Linked DNA regions of Homo sapiens. The gene in region 2 interacts genetically with the main gene of each other region. Each region holds a gene or a part of one and is shown on either strand. Other genes may lie near its edges.

What was found. Genes that interact genetically often act in the same process or in processes that back each other up.
Region 1: of CSNK1A1 (region 2) and AXIN1, changing one suppresses a phenotype caused by changing the other (phenotypic suppression), as found in Homo sapiens cells (one study listed by BioGRID).

What each region holds. Positions count from the first base shown.
Region 1 is NC_000016.10:349,709-357,591, forward strand, and holds the start of AXIN1 (axin-1), read right to left. Parts: upstream 3,016-7,883; 5' UTR 2,727-3,015; coding exon of another isoform or gene 2,661-2,726; intron 1-2,660. UniProt on the Homo sapiens protein: Component of the beta-catenin destruction complex required for regulating CTNNB1 levels through phosphorylation and ubiquitination, and modulating Wnt-signaling.
Region 2 is NC_000005.10:149,548,423-149,555,848, reverse strand, and holds the start of CSNK1A1 (casein kinase I isoform alpha), read left to right. Parts: upstream 1-4,409; 5' UTR 4,410-4,884; coding exon 4,885-5,007; intron 5,008-5,483; exon of another isoform or gene 5,484-5,667; coding exon 5,668-5,774; intron 5,775-7,426. Other genes in the region: ARHGEF37 (rho guanine nucleotide exchange factor 37), read right to left, coding at 3,726-3,747.

The sequences.
Region 1 (7,883 bases), on a different chromosome or scaffold from region 2:
AGACGCCAAACACTGGCTCTCTACAGGGGCTGAACTACTGTACCACAGAAAACAGCAGCAAATTCTTCCAAAACTAATGGGTTTTGTTGTTTTGTTTTTTGTTATTTTGAGACAGGGTCTCGCTCTGTCGCCTAGGCTGGACTGCAGTGGGGCGATCTCAGCTCACTGCAGCCTCAGCTTCCCAGGCTCAAGCAATTCTCCAGCCTCAGCCTCTCAAGTGGCGGGGACTACAGGCACGAGTCATCAACGCCCGGCTAATTACTGTATTTTGGGTTTCACCACGTTGGCCAGGCTGGTCTCAAACTCCTGAGCTCAAAGCAATCCACCCGCCTCGGCCTCCCAAAGTGTTGGGATTACAGGCCACTTTGCCTGGCCCCAAAACTAATGTTTTAATTCATGTGTGAACCAAATTTTCAGAGCCCAGAAGAAAATTTTCTTACAATCATGTGTATTTTTGGCTGTCAACTGACAGAAGACTTTTTGGTGTCCCTGGAAGCACATGAACCCCTCTACAAGCTACTGATGTTGTTGAAACATGTCCCAATTCCTGAAATCTCTGGGTTCCCACAGGGAAGCACACCAAGCATTTAGTGTACACACAAGTACACACCACACATAAAGCAGTCACGTTTACTCAGTTCAGTATCAAATGCCTGCAAGCACTGAATCTGGCCCACAGCCTGTAGCTACCATCAATAAAGTGAGTCCATAAAACGGGCGGGATGCCTACAAGTATGATACTGTATTTAAAATTCCCTTTCGTCACCGCTTAGGCATATGCTCCAGGCATCATGGCAGCAAACTCAATGCTACCTACGTGTGTAGGTATTTATTTTACCCAAACGTAACTTTTGACATTTTGATTTACATGGAGGAGGCAAGTAACACAACACGACTCTGACATCTTCCCAGCTGTCCATTGATTTAACTCTTGAAGGTTCAGGGCTACTATTTCACATGTAATTTATTCCCCCATCACTGAAATTCTCAATGACCAATGTAATCCGAAAAAGTCTGCTTAGCTTTTCTGAAACTAGAAACCCAAGACAAGTCAACACCAGCTGAAAATCAAACAAAAACAGTCTGTTTTTCATGCTTTCCCATCCTTGTCCCTGAATGGAGATCTTAAAACTGAAACCAAAGCCAGGTGAGGTGGCTCACGCCTGTAATCCCAGCACTTTGGGAGGCCGAGGTGGGCGGATCACCTGAGGTCGGGAGTTCAAGACCATCCTGACCCACATACAGAAACCCCATCTCTACTAAAAATACAAAATTAGTCAGGCTTGGTGGCGCATGCCTATAATCCCAGCTACTTGGGAAGGCTGAGGCAGGAGAATCGCTTGAACCTGGGAGGCGGAGGATGCGGTGAGCGGAGATCACGCCATTGGACTCCAGCCTGGGCAACAAGAGCAAAACTCTGTCTCAAAAAAAAAAAAAAACTGAAACCGAGCTATTGCTGAGTATCTCGGGTAGCCGGTTTAGACTGTGTTTTCTCCAAAATAGGGCCTGTGGATCCAAGTAAGCTCGAGATTCTTCCTGAAGAAGCAGAGAACAGAAGTGTGAGCAAAAACAAGGGGCTGACATGCACATAAGAACCCTTTATAAATTATCTTAGAAGGGGCCAGGCGCGGTGGCTCACGCCTGTAATCCCAACACTTTGGTAGGCCAAAGTGGGCAGATCACCTGAGGTCAGGAGTTCCAGGCCAGCCTGGTCAACATGGTGAAACCCTGTCTCTACTAAAAATACAAAAATTAGCCGGATGTGGTGGCGCATGCCTGTTATCCCAGCTACTCAGGCGGCTGAGGCAGGAAAACTGCTTGAACCCGGGAGGCGGAGGTTGCAGTGAGCCAAGATAGCGCCACTGCACTCCAGCCTGGGCTACAGTGCGAGACTCCGTCTCAAAAAAAAAAAATTATCTTAGAGGACGGTGGTCACCCCTGTAGTCCCAACACCTTGGAAGGCTGAGGCAGGTGGATCGCTTGAGGCCAAGAATTCAACACCTGCTGGGCAATATAGTGACACCCCATCTCTACAAAAAATATATATATATATATCTTATAGATGGGCTGAGAAAAATCCCCAGAGAACTGACATGTTTTTCTCTACTTTCTTCAATGCCAAGCTGAAAGTTTCACTGCTCGGGCAGTGCAGCTCTGGTTTCACGGGGGCTAAATTCCAAAGTGCGGGGCGGGGGTAGAATCTAAGAACCACACCCAAGAGAAAGACCAGTGTTTGGGCAGCAAGGCATCAACCTGGAGGGTACGGACGCCGGAGCACGCGGCTACTCAGGCCGAACCCCGACCCGGACCCGGCACGCGGCCTCGGCGAGGGCGGGCGGGAGTGTCCTCCTCCGGGACAGCCGGACTCCCGCCGACTTCTGGGCGGCGGGGAGGGCTCCAGGCCCGGCTCTCCCGGGCCCCCGCACGCGATGCGCGGCCCCTGCAGCTGCTCCGTGCCCCGAGACGCGCCCGAGGCCTCGGACCTCCAAGCGGCCACCGCGCCGCCAGTCCCGCTGCCCAGGGACACCCCGGCCCCAGCTCCCCGCGCGCCCACCCCCTCGGTCCCACGCGCGTCAGCCACCCGCGCCCCCCGCCGCTTCCGGGTCCCGCCCGCCCGGCCTACCGCGGCCTAGCCCGCCCCGGAGCCCGGCCCTACTCACCCGCGCGCGGTGGTGGCGGGACCCCGGGCCCGGCTCCCGGAGCGGCGCGGCGCGGTCCGGGCCCATGCGCTCAGCGGCAGCGCGGCGGGCGGGACCCGGCGGGGGCGCGGCCCGGGGCGGCCCCCATCTCGGCGGCTGCGGCTCGGCGGCCCGGAGGCGGACGCGGGGCAGGCCGCGGGGGCGCCGCAGGGGCCCAGCCGCCAGCTCCCACCCGCCCGCTCCGCGTGGACGCGGCTCCGGGCCGACTCCGGCCGGCTCTGGCGGCGGCAGCGGCCACGATCGCCTCCCGAGCCAGAGCCCGAGCCAGAGCGCCGAAGCCCAGGCCCGAGCGCCCCCGCCGGCGGCGTCCGGAAGTGCGGGGGCGGGGCCGGGGCGCGGGGACGAGGTGAGAGCGCGGGGCGGGGCCTCAACACGGGGCGGGGCCGGCAGCGCGGGGACGAGGTAAAGGGTGTGGGGCGGGGCTTCAGGCGCGGGGCGGGGCTGAAAGCGCGAGGATAAAGTGAGGAGCGTGGGGCGGGGCCGACAGCGAGGGGACAGGTGAGGAGCGCGGGGCGGGGCCGGGGCGTGGGCGGGGCCGGAAGCGAGAAGACGAGGTGAAGAGCTCGGGGCGGGGCCTCGGGCGTGGGGCGGGGACCAGGGAGTAAGGCGGGGCCCGCCTCGAGCAGAAGAGGTAAAGAGCGTGGGGCGGGGCCTCCGGCGCGGGGCGGGGCCGGAAGCGAGAAGACGAGTTGAGAAACATGGGCCGGGGTCTCTGCATGGCCGGGAGAGGGCGTGGTCAGTGCCTGCCGGGGGCGGGGCGTGCCGGGGGCGCGGTCGCGCCGTCTTCCCGAGGGGCGGTGCGGAAGCGGAGCCCGGGAGGCTTTGGCTTCCCAGAGAGCGGAGTGGGAGAGGCGGCGTTGCAGGTCCTTGGAATGGCCGCGGCCGTGGGGAGCACTGGGCGGACTGCGCGCCCCGAAGGGCGCACGTGGGGCGCAGCCCTTTTCTGCCGCCAGTACATCGGAGGGCAGTCAGGGGGCTGCAGGCCTCGGGGCTCCCTGCCCAGCCGGCCCTGGAGAGGAGGCCCTCGTGGGGACCGCCACGGCCTGCCCGCCGCCGTGAGGGAAGCAGGCTCCCAGGAGTGGGGTGGTCGGCAGGCAGGGATGGCCAGGGCCCTTGGAAGGTGGGGTGGGCTCCACCCTCCTGAGTCCCAAGGCAGCCTGGACTCACAGCGCCAGGGAACACGTTAGGCCCCAATATATGGTGGCTCTCACCCGGACAGGAGCCACAACCTCCAAAGAGCCCACCGGCTAGGACCCTCTGCCTTGATTTCTCCCAGGCACCATCTAGTATCAGAGAAGGGTTCTCCTTCCCTCCGCTGCCCAGGCCAGCCCGAGAGCAAGGCCATTGGAGTGTCCAGACCCCTGCACCCCTTCCCCTGGGCTGTCTCCACAGCGGCCCTGCCAAGGGGTCCAGTCCGATCCTGCCACCCTGGCTGCCCAGATCCGTGTCACTTGCCCTGCAGGCCACAGAGCATGAGGTCACAGCCCCAGGCACCCCACGGCAGAGAGGCACGGGCCCCCAGCAGCAGCCCCAGCACCAGCTCTGGCCAGCCCAACCCTGTCAGAACCAACCCTCTGCTCTCCACCCAGGCCTCAGCCAACCATCAGGCCCTCCCCAAGGAGGAGGATGTGAGTACCAGGATCTGCCGCCTCCCACAACAGCCCAGGGCCCTGTCCTTCCCAGAGCACTATTGGGCCTGGCACCTCCCGGGATGCTCCAGGCAGCCCCCTGGGGTCAGCTATACCCCCGTTTCACAGAGGAGACAGCTGCAGTTCAGGCCACACAGGACCAGCTCGCCTCCTGTTGGGTGAGGGCTCCCCACCTCGTCCGCCCCACACCTGAGACAACAGCCCTCATCTATCTGCCCTCTGCTTTAGGCCTCCCAGGGCTCCCTGCTGCCCACAGCCCTTCAGGGCCCTTCCTAAGGGCGCCTCCCCCACACCTTCCCCTAGATGCGTCTGGCCACTTGCCCGCCTCCGTGCTTCCGTGTCCATCATGTCCATACCTGCCAGCTCCCTCCAGGCACCTCTCACGTCACCCCCATGTCTTTCCCTGGGCTGTGTCACCCTGGATGCCCAGCCTCACCCTTCAGAGCTCCCAGGCAAGCACAGAAGTCCCAGCTCCAGGCTCCCCGAGCTTCCAGCCTACCCCCAACCAGATGCCCACAGGTGGGACTGCATGGGGAACCATGTGTGGAAGCCTCCCAGCCCTCGCCCCTGCCAGCACTCAGCATGGTGTCTGATGCCAGCATCGCTGTGTGGGAAAGGGGGTAGCATGGGACAAGGGCCACTAGGCTGTCCCCAGCCTGCCAAGGGCCCAGGCCCACCTCCCAGGGCCATCACTGTGCTCAGAGCAGGTGGGCAGGGGCTGGGGATATGAACGAAGCTGCACTGTTAGACCAACACCTGGCCCCGCTGGGTCCTGGCCGCAGGCACCCTGCCAGGTCCCACAGTGCTGGACACTGGGGCCTCCCCGCAAGCCCCCTAGCCCATTCAGCCTCAGAACCTTAGAGGAGACAGAGTGGGTGGCCTCCATGGTAAAGCACAGTTTCCAGGGATGAGGGAGTCCTGGGTGGCCAGACAGACAGCAGGACCTCAGACACTGGCCCCTGGGCTGCCCCCCGACTCCCAACAAGGTCCCCAATGCTTGCCTTGGTTCTGCAGAGCTGCTGCTGTGTCCGGGCCAGGCTCTCGGGGCTGTGTCCACGTCCATCCTCCTCTTGGCCCTCGGTGGCAGGTGTCCCCAGGCCCTGGGACCAGAACAAGGCCCTTGGGCCTCCAGCTCCTCGGGGCCCCTGCCCTGCAGGGACAGGAAGGGGGTCAGAAAGCCTGGAGGAAATGCAGCAGCCCTTCTAAAGTAGGTTGTGGTGTGGGTGTGGAGGGGAGATTCTCTGAGCCTAGTGGGGGTAGGAGGAGACCAGAGGCAGGCCAGGCAGAAGAGAGGTAGAGGAAGGCCCTGAGGAGGGGCAGGGAGGCGCGCGGGGGCCTGTGGTGTGCAGGGTGAGGTTCAGCCACCTCCCTTCCTCACAGAGCTCCTTGAAGAGGCAAACGCCCTTTGCTTCGAGCGTGAGTTTGCCACGAAGGCTTTTATTTGATTGACCGTAGATGACATTTAATCAGGTTTTGTTTCTAGGCACCAAATGAGACACTTAAGAGCAGACATGGAATTATTTTCTTCAATGTAGACATAAAAGGTATGTTTTTTTGTTTGTTGGTTTTTGGAGACGGAGTTTCATTCTGTTGCCCAGGCTGGAGCCCAGTGGCGTGATTTTGGCTCACTGCAGCCTCCACCTACCATGCTCAAGTGATCTTCCCACCTCAGCCTCCCGAGTAACTGGGATTACAGGCGTGTGCCACCACACCCCACTAATTGTTTGTATTTTTGCTAGAGACAGGGTTTCATCATGTTGCCCAGGCCGGTCTCTAACTCCTGAGCTCAAGGGATCCACCTGCGTTGGCCTCCCGAAGTGCTGGGATTACGGGCCCAAGCCACCATGCCCAGCCTAAAAGGAATACCTTGAAAATAAAGTGGCTGGCCCGGAGCGGTGGCTCACGCCTGTAATCCCAGCACTTTGGGAGGCCGATGCAGGTGGATCACGAAGTAAGGAGTTCGAGACCAGCCTGACCAACATGGTGAAACCCCATCTCTACTAAAAATAGAAAAATTAGCCAGGCGTGGTGGCGCACACCTGTAGTCCCAGCTACTCAGGAGGCTGAGGCAGGATAATTGCTTGAACCTGGGAGGCAGAGGTTGCAGTGAGCTGAGATCGCCCCATTGCACTCCAGCCTGGGTGACAGAGCGAGACTCTGTCTCAAAAAAATAAAAATAAAGAAAAGGCCAGGCACGGTGGCTCACACCCGTAGTCCTAGCAGTTCGGGAGGCCAAGGCCAGAGGATCACTTAAGCTTAGGAGTTCAAGACCAGTCTGGGCAACATAGTGAGACCTTGTCTCTACTAAACAATTTTTAAAAACTAGCTGGGCGTGGTGTTGCGCACCTATGGTCTCAGCTACTCGGGAGCGCGAGGCAGGTGGATCACTTGAACCCAGCGGTTGGAGGCTTTAGTGAGCTGTGATTGAGCCACTACACGTCAGCCTGGGCAACAGAGTAAGACCGTGTCTCCAAGAAATAAAAATTAAGAAAATAATAAAGTGAGTTTTGATGCCTTAAGTGTGTTTATCCATTTAACTGAGGAAGACCACTTATAAAAAATGACCCAAAGGAAACCCTGGAAGACACCCCAAGGACATTAGCTGGGGAGTGTTTGCCGCTGTACGATGTGTGATGGAGACAGCCAGCTGCAGAGATGGACACTGTGCAGCCACCGACCCTGCATCAGTGTAAGGGGAGCGGGGGAAGAGGACGGACGGTTCTGATCCAGGGTTCTGGAGGCTGAGGGAAGCCTTGGGTTCAGCCTCTTCCAGTCTGCCCCTTCTCTGCCCCCTCCGCTCAGTCCATAGGTGTGAGAGGTGGGAGTGGGCAGGCAGGGGAGGCCGCTGGAGGGGAGGGAGGCCCCTCGAGGGGGAGGGAGGCCTTGGACCATCCCGTTCAGGCGAGGGAGGACTGCACTTTCCATCGCAGGCAGAGCCCCCACCACCCTCCACCGCCTTCCAGGCTGTAAGGCGAGCCCCAGCTCTCATCCCTGAGCCTTCTTTTTCCATCAGTTCTGAGCCCACAGGAGAGGCCAGATGCTGCCTGTGCCCCCATCCCAAGCCCGACAGAGAACAAGGAGCTACAACACCCCAGAGACATGCCGCCAGGCCACGCACACAGGGCACCACTTTTCCTGAAAATAGAAAATGTGGGCGGGGCGCAGTGGCTCACACCTGTAATCCCAGCACTTTGGGAGGCTGAGGCGGGAGGATCACTTGAAGTCAGCGGTTTAAGATTAGCCTGGGCAACAATGCAAGACCCTTTCCCTATAGAAGCATTGTTTTTAATTAGCCAGGCATGGTGGCGTGCACCTGTGGTCCCAGGTACACGGAGACAAGAGGATGGCTTGAGCCCGAGTGGTCAAGGCTGCAGTGAGCTGAGATGGTGCCACTCCACTCCAGTCTGGGTGAGAGAAAGACCTGACACTGGGCCAGGCGTGGTGGCTCACGCCTGTAATCCCAGCACTTTGGGAGGTCAAGGCAGGCAGATCGCCTGAGGCTGGGAGTTCGAGACCAGCCTGACCAACATGGAGA
Region 2 (7,426 bases):
CCCAGCCAAGAAAAAAAAAAGTTTTAAAATTCATCTTGAATTCCCTACGAACACAGAAGTAATCCCTGGGACATGATTGTCCTAATTTGTGTTCTACTCTTTCCTTTTTCTCTTTCTTTTGGTAGTAGTTGTGGCTCTAGTCCTGTCACTGCCACTAAGATCTCTATGATTTTGGGCAAGCCACTTTGTCTTACTGGGGCACAAATGATATGTGTGAAAGTACTCTAAATTGCAGGCTGGGTACAGTGGTTCTTGCCTGTCATCCTAGCGTTTTGGGAGGATGAGGCGTCAGGATCACTTGAGTCCAGGAGTTCAAGACCAGCCTGGGCAACAAGGCAAGACACTATTTCTACAAAAAGTTAAAAAAAAAAAAAAAATTAGCCAGGCATGGTGGTGCCTGCCTATAGTCCTAGCTACTGGGGAAGCTTGAGGCAGGGGGATTGCTTGAGCCCAGGAGGTCTAGACTATAGTGAGCTATGGTGGTGCCATTGTACTCCAGCCTGGGTGACAGAGTGAGACTTTGACTCATAAGTAAATTGCAAAGCATTAAAAAATACAATTATTATTATTGAACTAGGTGATCTCTGTATTTCCCTCAAGGTCTAAAATTTTTATTTTTATTCTACACTTTTGATATTTTTAGTGAATTCATCTGATCTAGAAGCCAGAAATTGCTCTTTGAAGACTCCTTTCTTTCTTTCTTTTTTTTTTTTTTTTTGAGACAGAGTCTCACTCTGTAGCCCAGGGTGGAGTGCAATGGCACGATCTCAGCTCACTGCAACTTCCGCCTCTCGGGTTCCAGCGATTCTCCTGCCTCAGCCTCCTGAGTAGCTGGGACTACAGGCGCCTGCCACCACGCCCGGCTAATTTTTGTACTTTTTAGTATAGACGGGGTTTCACCATATTGGCCAGCTGGTCTCGAACTCCTGACCTTGTGATCCGCCTGCCTTGGCCTCCCAAAGTGCTGGGATTACAGGCGTGAGCCACCGTGCCTGGCCTAAAAGACTCCTTTCATTACACCAAAGCTGCTGCTGATTCAATAAGTACAGAATGATTTGTGACTTTAACAGCAACACCAAAAACAGGTTATTCTTCAATCTTTTAGGCTAAAATTACTGCAAATGATACATGACTTTAAGAAGAAGGCTGAGTCATAGCCAACACCTGAGGACTTCATTTTCTATGTAAAAAAAAAAAAAAACAATTTTGCCATTCTTAAATCCAATAAATTTAAATCTTAAGAAACTAAAATCACATTTGAAAAGGCTAGACCCACTCACATCTCATTTTTGTGCATTTTGCTGGGCACTGTCAGTGTTGGAATGGTGACTATAGCAGGCAGGAAACAAAGGAGGACTCATACCTTATATACAAAATTATAGAATCTCAGGGTTAGAAGGGTTTCCAGAAGTCATTTAGACCAGTAGAATTTAATGGGCTTACACAAGTTCTAAAAAAAAGGCGAGGAGGATTAGACATACAAGTACCTATCATTCATTCATTCATTCATTCATTTATTGAGACAAGGTCTCACTCTGTTGCTCAGGCTGGAATGCTGTGGTTTGATCATAGCTCACAGCAGCCTGGAACTCCTGGAGTCAAATGATCCTCCTGCCTTGGCCTCCCAAAGTGTTGGGATTACATGCATGAGCCACCGTACGCAGCTTTCAACTTTTTTTTTGAGACAAAGTCTCACTCTCTTGCCCAGGCCGGAGTGCAGTGGCACAATCTCGGCTCACTGCAATCTCTACCTCCCCAGTTCAAGCGATTCTCATGCCTCAGCCTCCCAAGTAGCTGGGATTACAGGCATGCGCCACCACGCCCGGCTAATTTTTGTGTTTTTAGTAGAGACAGGGTTTCACCATGTTGGCCAGGATGGTCTCGAACTCCTGACCTCAGGTGATTGCCCTTCCTTGGCCTCCCAAAGTGCTAGGATTACAGGTGTGAGCCACTGCACCCGGGCTCAACTTTTAACCGAGCAAGAATATTTTAAAAACCAAAACCATCTACCATCGGCACCTTTTTATAAAAGAGCATTTTAATGACACATATGTGAAAAGACTAAATCTCAGAATGAAATATAATGTGAAATCAGATAAATAAATGAAAGATGTATTGCTTACTTTTCTCACATCCTCATGGCAAACTTTGTTAGCCACTTGCACCTGTCCATACACAGATCTTTGGGAATCACTAATTTAGACCACTTCATGCCCACCCTTACCCTGCCCCCGGCTTCATTGAGCATTTTTATCACAATACCAAAATATCCGTCTAAATGTATACCTCATCCCCTTATGGAGAACTCCTCAAGCTGAGGAATCCATTAAACTTTGGATGTGTGTGAGAAAATTAGCAGAAAAGGAGTGATCTCTGGAAAACTCAAGATGCTTAAACTTGGCTTTTTTTTTTTTAAGACCAGAATTGATTAATTAATTAATTTTTTAGATGGAGTGGAGTCTCGCTCTGTCTCCAGGCTGGAGTGCAGTGGCACGATCTCGGCTCACTGTAACCTCTGCCTCCCAGGTTCAAGCGATTCTCCTGCCTCAGCCTCCCTAGTAGCTGGAGCTACAAGGCACATGCTACCATGCCCAGCTAAGTTTTGTATTTTTAGTAGAGACAGGGTTTCACCACGTTGGCCAGAATGGTCTCGAACTCCCGACCTCAGGTGATCCAGCCGCCTCGGCCTCCCAAAGTGCTGGGATTACAGGTGTGAGCCCACCATGCCCGGCTGCATTTTATATCAGAATTTAACAGCAGATTTTAACTTAGTCAAAACATGCTTTAGAGTCACCAAAGGAGAATGATGTCTAACAGTGCTGATTTGGGAGTTGGGCACCCTGAGTGTTGGTTGGGCTTTAAAAACTTCATGCTAAACTTCAGGGGAAGTCTCCTCCCCTCTCTCTTCAGTTGTCTTCCGAGATGAACCCTATTACTAATTACTTGACCACCTTTCAAAGTTGCAGTTAAAATTCTTCACATTTTTCTCCCATTTCTATTTAATTAATTATTTTTTTTTTGAGACAGGGTCTCTCTGTTGCCCAGGCTGGAGTACAGTGGCGTGATCTAGTCTCACCGCAACCTCCGCCTCCCGGGTTCAAGCGATTCTCAGACTCCCGAATAGCTGGGGTTACAAGTGTGCGCCATCACACCCGGCTAATTTTTGTATTTTTAGTAGATACGGGGTTTCATCATGTTGGCCAGGCTGGTCTCGAACAACTGACCTCAAGTGATCTGCCCGCCCCGGCCTCCCGAAGTGCTGGGATTACAGGCGTGAGCCACTGCGCCCGCCCCCCATTTCTATTTTAATTAAATTTTATTTAGGATAGGCTTAGCTTAAATTTTTACGACTGAGGTCTGACTTAAGATGATAGCATCAACCATGGAGTTTTCTTTCGTGAACATTATTATTACTAAGCCCAATTTTCCCAGGTCAAATTTTGTAAAACAAAACGTGGTCAAAATTTGATTCTCTGATCGATTTTTTGTAAAAAAGAAAAAAATTACCGTGTAGTTTTAAATGTTGTCAATTAAATTTTGTAATAGTTACCTCTACTCTGTTCAGGTTAATACTGAGGTTTTCAACAAGACCAACATACGATTCTTTTTTTTTTTTTTTTTTTTTTTTTTGGTGGGGTTGAGGGGACATAACAGTTTTTTCACTCTTGTTAAATTAATTTTCTGTTGATTCCATCTATCCTTAATCTTCATTATGAGCAACATACCAGGTTTTCTTCTGAAGATCATATGTGGTAGTGAGGCAATAATGCAAAGACATAGGATGGCAGGGGGATTCCGGCTTCTTTCTTTCTTCCCCTCCTGTGGAAAGAGGGTCTATAACACTCCGTAGTAGATAGGACAATTCTAATTATGAAGGGTAATTAGCTAGGCTCTGCTACAACCGAGAGCCCTGAGAGATTCCTCGACGCTGGCTGCTTTTCTCTTCCTCTCCACCAGAGGCGACAGCCTCTTTCCAAACAGAAACTGGGTTGGAATAGGCCGGTCCGGGGGAACGGCCAGAAGAAAGATCAAAGGTTAAAAACCGCCTCAAAGAGCACAGGTCAATACCCAACTCCTAAGGAGGCCTTAAGCTTTCATCTGCCACGAAACATGAAGGTGACTCCTCCCAATATCAAGGCCGGGGGGCCACTCAGCCTTCCAGAGACCCGGCGGGTCCGAGGCGAGTAACAGGTAACACCTGCTGAGCCGCCGCCGACCGGAAGTGGAAGAGAGCCCGGGACGGGGGTGAGGACAGGCCGCGGCACGCCTGCGCAGTCAGCAGGAGTTGCAGCGCTCATGCGCAGCTGGGCGGTGACAGGGTGACGCTCGGAGCGTGGGCCGCGACTCTCACGGATCCGGTTCCGCCCTCTCGCTGCCGATCCTTCGGAGCGAGCGCCCGAGATCCCTTTCCCAGAGTGCTCTGCGCCGTGAAGAAGCGGCTCCCGGGGACTGGGGGCATTTTGTGTTGGCTGGAGCTGGAGTAACAAGATGGCGTCGTCCGCGGAGTGACAGGGGTCCCTCTGGGCCGGAGCCGGCGGCAGTGGTGGCAGCGGTATCGCCGCCCTAGCTCACCGCGCCCCTTTTCCAGCCCGCGACGTCGCCGCGCAAGCGAGGCAGCGGCGGCCGCCGAGAAACAAGTGGCCCAGCCTGGTAACCGCCGAGAAGCCCTTCACAAACTGCGGCCTGGCAAAAAGAAACCTGACTGAGCGGCGGTGATCAGGTTCCCCTCTGCTGATTCTGGGCCCCGAACCCCGGTAAAGGCCTCCGTGTTCCGTTTCCTGCCGCCCTCCTCCGTAGCCTTGCCTAGTGTAGGAGCCCCGAGGCCTCCGTCCTCTTCCCAGAGGTGTCGGGGCTTGGCCCCAGCCTCCATCTTCGTCTCTCAGGATGGCGAGTAGCAGCGGCTCCAAGGCTGAATTCATTGTCGGAGGGAAATATAAACTGGTACGGAAGATCGGGTCTGGCTCCTTCGGGGACATCTATTTGGCGATCAACATCACCAACGGCGAGGTAATCATCTGGGGTGGGGTTCACGATAACGCTGCGCTTTTACTCATTCCCCCCACCACCACCGTGCACCCCCAAAGTGCTCGGGCCTCTCCTCATCGCACGCACTCGCCAGGGAGTCCAGGGAGCTAGTTTTCCTGGCTTACGAACCTCGTCCGCTGTCTCCCTAAAAGGGTCAAGAACCCGATAGAAAGGTTGGGGGAACTAGTTTCCCACCTTGTTAAACACGTCCCATAAATGTCCCTTAGTCGAGCTTTTTTTTTTTTTAACCGTCTTTTAAGGTGGAAACGGCAAAATCCTCTTTCAGTGATTCCCATGTTTTTTTTTTTTTAATTCTTAATTCTACTGGGCCTCTTGTTCCAATTAGAACAGTTTCCGATCGCCTAGTTCCTTAAAAACCTCTCACTACGTTCAGAGGTTGCCTCTTTTTTCTGGATGAATCATTTTCCTGCACTTTAGAGGACGTACGGATTTCGTCACTACCCCCTGAAGAGGCCTTTGAGGCTGGTTGCCTCGTTTTATAATTACCGAGAGCTTTCTCTTTCCAGCTTTTCACTTCTTCTTGTAGTCGCGACTTGGAGTTTTGCTAATGTCTCCCTCCTTTCCTAAGTGACATTGAATCCGTAGGGATGTTGATGCCATCATCCCCTCTTTCCCCTGCAGGAAGTGGCAGTGAAGCTAGAATCTCAGAAGGCCAGGCATCCCCAGTTGCTGTACGAGAGCAAGCTCTATAAGATTCTTCAAGGTGGGGTTGGCATCCCCCACATACGGTAAGAACCCGGTGCATATAGGCGATCCGCTGAGGGAAGCACGGAATGGGGAAGTGGGTAGAGGCAGGTAATGAGACCAGCTGAATCCGGGTCTTGGTGTTTTAGTTACCTGGGTTCCCTATAGCTGGTGGTTTCCTGTAAGTCAGTCATCTCAATTACTGAGTAAATTTCAGTTTGCCAACTTATTTCATTGTATTACACTGCTCCATTTCGCTTCCGTCATTCTCACTCTTCCCGAGGCTTTCATTTGCAGTTATGCGTGCAGGTCATCTTTGATCCCTACGCGGAAGGGTTGGCTGCTGCCTTTTTTACGGCGGCACTTCTGATGTACTTAGGTTTGTCCAGTGAAGTGGATTTGAAGGTGCCGAAGCGACCCGGCAGTGTCAGTTCGAGTTGCTATTGGAGCTGGCTTGGGAAATGGCTGCTCTTTTGTTGTGTTTTTGTTCCAACATGTCTTCCTCCTCCGCTTAGAAAATGGCGGAACGACGTGACTCAACCCCATATTCCTGCCCTTTTCTCAGCTTGAGTTCACAAATTATGCTTCCTTGATTCCTCCTTTAGCAGCCCCGAGTGGATTAAACCTTTGAAAAGCCAAGAATAAAGCTGCAGGAGGCGGTGTGGAGGTTCGAGGAAGGAGATGGCATAGTGACAGTGTTTGTGATCTCTGCAGCAGATGTGACACGAAATTGTTGAATTACACTATGTAAAATCCTTCGTAGTTCTTTTAAAAGTGTTAATTACTCTTTCTTTTCGTGAATGGTCATATTTGGCACGTTTCAGTCGGGACTAAATTTGTATAGGTAGTGGCAAAGGCAGTTTGAGCAGCACCAACTATGTTAAAATTTACTCATATCAGTTGTATTTAAAAAAATCTTAATCACTTAGCCACACTTTGATAAGTAATTTTAACCTGTTGAGTTTGTCAGTAAATCTTCACATCAGAGAAATTGGGGCCTTTGTTGGTGTGGAATATTGGTGAGTGCAAATAGCAGTAACGAGGATAAAAGATGACGAGATAGACATTGTTCTGTCAAATGGTTAACTTTACTTTGGAGGGTTTTAATGTTTTAACTTTTGGGATTAAAGATCCTCTTCATGGAATGGAGACTAAAATATAGTTTAAAGCCCAGCTATTTTCCAGCAATAATCTAAAATAACATTTGCAAAATTATTCAGAATAGGTAAGAATGGTACTTACTGTTTACTGGAGCCTCTTCTTTAAGACGGAGTTTTCGCTCTTGTGGTCCAGGCTGGAGTGCAATGAATGGCACGATCTTGGCTCACTGCAACCTCTGCCTCCCGGGTTCAAGTGATTCTCGTGCCTCAGCCTCCTGAGTAGCTGGGATTACAGGCGCCCGCCACCACGCCTAGCTAATTTTTGTATTTTAGTTTCACCACGTTGGCCAGGCTGGGCTCGAACTCCTGACCTCAGGTGATCTGCCTGCCTCGGCCTCCCAAAGTGCTGGGATTACAGGCATGAGCCACTGTGCCCGGCTTTTTTTTCTTTTGAAACGGAGCCTTACTCTGTTGCCCAGGCTAGAGTGCAGTGGCGCAACCTTGGCTAACTGCAGCCTCCGCCTCCCAGGTTCAAGTGATCCTCCTGCCTCAGCCTCCCAAGTAGCTGGAATTGCAGAGCTGCACTACTACGCCTG